2 linked regions of the Homo sapiens genome follow. The protein of the gene in region 2 purifies or fractionates together with the protein of the main gene of each other region. This does not show direct contact. Each region holds a gene or a part of one and is shown on either strand. Other genes may lie near its edges. The genes, in order: PALD1 and PRORP.

Region 1 (3,815 bases), on a different chromosome or scaffold from region 2:
ACTCCAGCCTGGGCAACAAGAGTGAAACTCTGTCTCAAAAACAAGAAAAAAAAAAAAAAGAAGTTTGCTCAGACAACTAACCTGAAATCTTACATCTTAACACACACCAAGGACAAAAACAATCAGTGAACAGAAGAGAAAGAAGCCCCTTCTCCACCATGGAAGTGCCTTCCAGAAGTATAACAGGGAATAAACATACCTCTCCTTTGTATATTATTTCTAGGAAGAATTTTAAAGATGAATCCTACATACTTAAGGGAGATGTTTTGAAAAATAGTAAAAAAAAAAAATTTAACTTTAATAATAAGATAACATTGCTAAGATGTTCGTACTCTGTAATCTTGTTTCAAAAACATGGTGGTTTTGTGAAGTATGATCCCAACAGAAGGACAATTCATGAATTTCACATGAAAAGACAGTTCTTTGTACAACACTGCTAAAAATGGGATTTCTTTCCATATTCTTAAAAATATGAAGCTCACCTATTGTTTACAATTTGTTTAACTTTGTATTTTCCAAGTGTGCATATTGGAATGGGGGATGCTTAGCAATACTATGTGTGCATTTTCTGAAGGTTGATAACTTTGCTTGCAGTAAATTTTCTTTAAAAGAATGGGCAGTTGCAGCTGGGCGCAGTGGCTCATGCCTGTAATCCCAGCACTTTGGGAGGCCGAGGCGGGCAGATCACCTGATGTCAGGAGTTTGAAACCAACCTGGTCAAAATGGCAAAACCCCATCTATACTAAAAACACAAAAATTAGCCAGGCATAGTGGCACACACCTGTAGTCCCAGCTACTAAGGAGGCTGAGGCAGGAGAATCGCTTGAACCCGGGAGGCGGAGCTTGAGTGAGCTGAGATCACGCCACTGCACTCCAGCCTGGGTAACAGACCGAGACTCTGTCTCAAAAAAAAAAACAAACAATAAAATAAAATAAAAGAATGGGCAGTTACATGTACACTTCAAAAGTATTTTCCTGTTTAAAAAAAGTATATGGGTTTTGTTTGCTATCTTAATTTTGGTTGTATTCTTTGATGTAAACACATTTTCTATCATTGCATCATTCAGCTATATTGAATCATGTAGTATCAAATATTAGACGTGATTTAACAGTGTTAATCAATTTAAATCCATTTTAGTCTTTTTTTAGAAAAATATTGGGGTCGAGCACGGTGGCTCATGCCTGTAATCCCAACACTTTGGGAGGCCAAGGCAGGCAGATCACCTGAGATCAGGAGTTTGAGACCAGCCTGGCCAATGCGGTGAAACCCCATCTCTATTAAAAATACAAAAATTAGCTGGGCGTAGTGGTGGGCACCTGTAATCCCAGCTACTCAGGAGGCTGAGGCACGAGAATTGCTTGAACCTGGGACGCAGAGGTTGCAGTGAGCTAAGAATGCGCCACTGCACTCCAGCCTGGGCAACAGAGTGAGACTCCATCTCAAAAAAAACAAACAAACAAAAAATATATTGCCAGATGCTGATGTTCAGTGTACTTTCTTTGCCTGTTCAATCATGGAAGGTGGCACTCAGTTGCAGAATGTGTTGTACCTTTCAGCACCTGATGTATACATCCCGTGTAACAGAAAGGGCAACAATAAAACAGTGATCCTAAAAAAAGCCGGGGACACATCCATGGGCCACTCTGTGACCAGCAGGAAAGGGGTTAACTCCTTCAGGAGATTCTCCATTCCAGGAAAAGGAAAAGGGGAGGAGAAGTCCCTTCTGTGCTTTCCAAACAGAATCTTCGAAAAATGTCCCAGCGTCCCAGGCCTCCATTCTGGGAAGGCCAGACAGAGGCCGGCACAGCCCACAGAGAGGAAGGGCCTGGGGCTCAGCAGGATGCAGAAGCTGGCAGGGTCCCAGGTCATCTCAGGGCACCCACCCCTCTCCCCTCCCATGGGCCCCAGCCCAGCCTGTTGGCCGTTTCCCAGGGTACCCACAGCCCTCACAGCACCACATCCTCTCTCCTTGGGGAATTTCTGAAAGCCCCAGCTCCCTGGGAGCCCAAAGCATTGGCAGTGACACACCCAGTTCCCAAAGATGTTCTCTACTGCCTTCCATGGGTGTGCAGATGACCCAGACACCCCACCTGCCTCTCTCATCAGTGCCCCAGCTTCAGCCCAGGCAGGGGCACCCCTTAAAGCCAAAGTCAGCCCACATGCCAGTTATGGGAAATACACAAAACGCTTCACAAGGGCTGTCACACCTCTGCCACGCTGCTCTTTCTGCTGGGGAAGCCTTGCCCTCCTCCTTTGCAAACTCCTGGCCATCCCTCAAAGCCCACGTGAAGTATCACACACACCCCAGGCCAGCCATTCCCTCCCTCAGGCTCCAACCATAACTAGCACAGACCCCATCACAGAACCAGACATGGTGTCTGCATGTACCTCACTCACCTCCTGGCAGGGACAGAGTTTAATCTACCTTCGGAGCCCCTGCACCTCATACTGAACCCAGGGCCAAGAAAGCTCAGGAACCCACATCAAGATGCCACGCTGGTCCCTTCCCACCAACTGGTCCTGTGCAAGCATCCTGGCCTCTGCTGAGAGAATAACATCGTGGTAATAACATAAGCACCTAATGTTTACTGAGTACTTCCTAGGAGCCAGACAGCCTCGGAGGCTCTCTGCGATTACCTCCTTTCATCCTTGTGACATTCTCATAAGGGAGTTGCTATCCTTAACCCTGTTACACAAGGGACTTGAGGCACAGAGAGGTTAAGTTTCTTGCCCTGGGCCACATGGCTAATGAGGGAGGGAGCAGAAATTCAGACCCTGGTAGTTTCTTTCCAGAGCCAGTGTTCTTAATCACAACAGGTCTATTTGCAGGTAGGAAGATGGTCGAGGCAGATGTGTCAGGAAAAGCCCTGAGTGGAAAAGGAACTCAGGGATTATAAAGGCCAGTGCTTCCAGACCTTCTCTTTCCCCGGGTCCCAGCCAAAGGCCTCGGAAGACAAACAGAGCCTCCTCCCAGACTAAGCCTGCTGCTCCCAGGCTCAATCCTGTGCTGAGCACCAGTTACAGGAAACATAAAAAGTCCATCTGCAAGTGCCTTGGCCCAAGACAGGGGCAGCACATGGCTGGGCTGCCCTCTGGGAAACGAAAGCCATGATTTGGGACTATTCTTAGCAAACACTGGCTCCCCTCCCAGAGGCCCAGCAGTCAGCAGGCCCAAGCTTCCATACGCCCGCCCAGCCTGCCATTTCCTGACCCCGTGTATGGAGGTCCCACAGGGCTAAGGAGGGACTAGTGGGCACCGACTGAGGACAAAGCCCTCCAGCTTTCACAGGAGAGGTGCCTGGCCCACCCAGCCTGCTCCAGACCTCACCCAGAGGCCCAGGGCCATGCACCTGGCTGCTGAGGAAGCCCTGCAGAGTCCTGGCCACAGGGGATGGCTCATAATCAAAGGCCCCCACCGCCACATCAACTGAGCACTCACTCCATGCCATGCACTGGGCCACATGCTTTGCACTGATTTTCTCCCACTGAACCCACAAGGAGGTAGAGGTTACTGACCCCACTCTAAAGATGAGGAAACCAATACATTAATTGACTTGCTGGAGGTTGCATGGTGCATTAGTATCAAAGCATATCTAGAATCTGGGCTGTCTCTCAGGTGCCAGGTTGGGCAGAGGAGACCTGAGCATAGCCAGGTGGGGGACCCCTTCCCTGTGCAAGCCCACGGCTTAGCAGAGAAGGAGCCCGCCCCAGAGGGCAGTGGCTCTCATCACAGACGCAGCTACATGTGTGCTCTCTCTCTCACCTGGGGGATCCCTGTCAAAGACCCGCAGGCTTGGGTTCAGAAGGAGAATCC
Region 2 (3,815 bases):
GATGGCTCATGCCTGTAATCCCAGCACTTTGGGAGACCAAGGCTGGTGGATCACCTGAGGTCAGGAGTTCGAGACCGGCCTGGCTAACATAGTGAAACCCCGTTTCTACTAAAAATACAAAAAAAAAAAAAAAATTAGCTGGGCATGGCGGCGCACGCTGGTAATCCCAGCTACTCGTGAGGTTGAGGCAGGAGAATCGCTTGAACCCAGGAGGCGGAGGTTGAAGTGAGCCGAGATCACGCCATTGCACTCCAGCTTGGGCAACAAGAGTGAAACTCCATCTCAAAAAAAAAAGATGCATATTTAGGTTGTTTATTTTAAGTTTTTCTTCTGTTTTGATATAGGCACTTATAGCTGCTTTTGTTATATCCCACCGTGCCTAGATACATTTAATGTTATTATTGATAAGTAAGGACTTAGTCCTGCCATTTTGTTTTCTGGTTGTTTTGTGGTCTTATTTTTTCCTTCCTTTCTTCCCTTTAGTGAAGATGATTTTCTCTGGTGATATAATTTAGTTTCTTGCTTTTTATTTTTTGTGTATCTGTTGTATTTTTCTTTTTTTTTTTTTGAGATGGAGTATTGCTCTGTCGCCCAGGCTAGAGTGCCGTGGTGCGATCTTGGCTCGCTGCATCCTCCACCTCCTGGGTTCAGGAGATTCTCCTGCCTCAGCCTCTTGAGTAACTGGAATTACAGGCGCACACCACCATGCCCAGCAAATTTTTTTTTTTGTATTTTTAGTACAGACAGGGTTTCACCATGTTGGTCAGGCTGGCCTCGAACTCCTGACCTCATGATCTGCCTTCCTCAGCCTCCCAAAGTGCTGGGATTATAGGCGTAAGCCACCGTGCCCAGCCTTGTATGTTTTTTGATTGGAGGTTACCATGAGGCTCACTAATACTTAACTATAGCCTATTATTTTAAGCTGATAATAATTTAACACTGTATAAACAAACAAGCAAAAAGAAAACTAATAAAAACTCTACACCTTTACTTTGTCTCCCTGCTTTTTAACTTTTTATTGTTTCTATTTATATCTTACTGTACTATCAATGTCTTGAAAAGTTATAGTCGTTATTATTTTTGATTGGTTCATTGTTTAGACTTTCTTTTTTTTTTTTTTTTTTGAGACGGAGTCTCGCTCTGTTGCCTAGGCTGGGGTGCAGTGGCACAATCTCAGCTCACTGCAGCCTCTGCCCCCCAGGTTCAAGTGATTCTTCTGCCTCAGCCTCCCGAGTAGCTGGGACTACAGGTGCCCGCCACCATGCCCGGCTAATTTTTTTGTATTTTTTAGTTGAGACGGGGCTTCACCATGTTAACCAGGATGGTCTTGATCTCCTGACCTCATGATTTGCCCGCCTCGGCCTCCCAAACTGCTGGGATTACAGGCGTAAGGCACTGCCTCACTAAACTCATTGTTTAGTCTTTCTAAAGATAAGAGTAGTTTTAGTTTACACACCATAGTTACAGTGTTATAATATACTATGTCTTTTTGTGTACTTATTATTAACAGTGAGTTATGTACCCTCAGATGATTTCTTATTGCTCATTAATGTCCTTTTCTTTTTTTTTTTCATTGAGATGGAGTCTCACTCTGTCGCCCAGGTTGGAATGGAGTGGCACGATCTCAGCTCACTCCAACCTCCGCCCCCACTGGGTTCAAGTGATTCTTGAGTCTTACCCTCCCAAGTAGCTAGGATTACAGGTACCCTCCACCAGACCCGGCTAATTTTTGTATTTTTAGTAGAGACAGGGTTTCACCATGTTGGCCAGGCTGGTTTCGAACTCCCAACCTTACTTTATCCAGCTGCGTCGGCCTCCCAAAATGCTGGGATTACAGGTGTGAGCTACTGCACCCGGCCTATGTCCTTTTCTTTCTGCCATTTTTTTTTTTTAAATATAGAGACAGGGTCTTACTATGCTGCCCAGGCTGGTCTCAAACTCTTGGGCTCAAGTGATCTTCCCACCTTGGCCTCCCAAAGTGCTGGAATTATAGGCGTGAGTCACCAGAGTAACGGTCCTTTTCTTCTTCTTCTTTTTTTTTGAGGCAGTCACTCTGTCGCCCAGGCTGGAGTGCAATGGCGCGATCTCAGCTTACTGCAACCTCCGCCTCCTGGGTTCAAGTGATTCTCCTGCCTCAGCCTCTGAATAGCTAGGATTATAGGCGTGCACCACCAGACCTGGCTAGTTTTTGTATTTTTAATAGAGACGGGGTTTCACCATGTTGACCAGGCTGGTCTTGAACTCCTGACCTCAGGTGATCCACCCACCTCGGCCTCCCAAAGTGCTGGAATTACAGGCATGAGCCACCACAGCTGGCCATCCTTTTCTTTCTGATTGAAGTACTCCTTAGCATTTATTGTAGGATAGGTCTGGTGTTGATGTAATCTCTCAGCTTTTGTTTGTCTGGGAAAGTCTTTATTTCTCCTTCATGTCTGAAGGATATTTTCACTGCATATACTATTCTGGGGTAAAAGTGTTTTTCCTTCAGCACTTTAAATATGTCATGCCATTCTTTCCTGGCCTGTAAGGTTTCCACTGAAAAGTCTGCTGCCAGATGTATTTTAGCTCCATTGTATGTTATTTGTTTTTTTCTCTAGTTGCTTTTTGGTTTTTTTTTTTTTTGAGACAGAGTCTTGCTCTGTCACCCAGGCTGGAGTGCAGTGGTGCTATTTCGGCTCACTGCAACCTCCACCTCCTGGGTTCAAGCGATTCTCCTTCTTCAGCCTTCCGAGTAGCTGGGATTACAGGCATCTGCCACCATACCCAGCTAATTTTTATATTTTTAGTAGAGACAGGGTTTCACTATGTTAGCCAGGCTGATCTCGAACTCCTGACCTCAGGTGATTCGCCTGCCTCAGCCTCCCAAAGTGCTGGGATTATAGATAGGTGTGAGCCACCACACCTAGCCAATCCTTTCTTTTTTTCTTTTTTTGAGAAGAAATCTCACTCTTGTCCCCTAGGCTGGAGTGCAGTGGTGCTATTTTGGCTCACTGCAACCTCCGCCTCCCAGGTTCAAGTGATTCTCCTGCCTCAGCCTCCCAAGTAGCTGGGATTACAGGCACCTGCCACCACGCCTGGCTAATTTTTGTATTTTTAGTAGCGACGGGTTTCACCATGTTGGCCAGGCTGGTCTCGAACTCCTGACCTGAGGTGATCCGTCCGCCTCGGCCTCCGAAAGTGCTGGAATTACAGGCATGAGCCACTGCGCCCAGCCCCAATCCTTTCTTTATCCGTTGAAGGTTGGATTATTCAACTGGGTGTGGTGGCTCACACTTGTAATCCCAGCACTTTGGGAGGCTGAGGTGGGTGGATCAGCTGGGGTCAGGAGTTCGAGACCAGCCTGGCCAACGTGGTGAAACCCCGTCTCTACAAAATATATAAAAATTAGCCAGGCGTGGTGGCGGGCCTCTGTAATTCCAGTTACGTAGGAGGCTGAGGCAGGAGAATCGTTTGAACCTGGGAGCCGGAGGTTGCGGTGAGCCAAGGTCACACTACTGCACTCCAGCCTGGGCAACAAGAGCAAATCTCCATCTCAAAAAAATAAAAAACAAGAAAAAAAAGAAAGTTGGATTATTCGTCCAGGCATTGTGGCTCACGCCTGTAATCCCAGCACTTTGGGAGGCCGAGGTGGGTGTGAATCACCTGAGTTTAGGAGTTTAAGACCAGCCTGGCCAACATGGTGAAACCCTGTCTCTACTAAAAATAAAAAAAAATTAGCTGGAAATGGTGGTGCGTGCCTGTAATCCTACCTACTCGGGAGGCTGAAGCAGGGGAATCATTTGAACCCGTGAAGCGGAGGTTGTAGTGAGCCAAGA

The links.
Region 1: the proteins of PRORP (region 2) and PALD1 purify together in Homo sapiens (co-immunoprecipitation; one large-scale study listed by IntAct). This does not show direct contact.

What each region holds. Positions count from the first base shown.
Region 1 is NC_000010.11:70,481,648-70,485,462, reverse strand, and holds part of PALD1 (paladin), read right to left. Parts: exon of another isoform or gene 2,399-3,815; intron 1-2,398.
Region 2 is NC_000014.9:35,128,925-35,132,739, forward strand, and holds part of PRORP (mitochondrial ribonuclease P catalytic subunit isoform 1 precursor), read left to right. Parts: intron 1-3,815.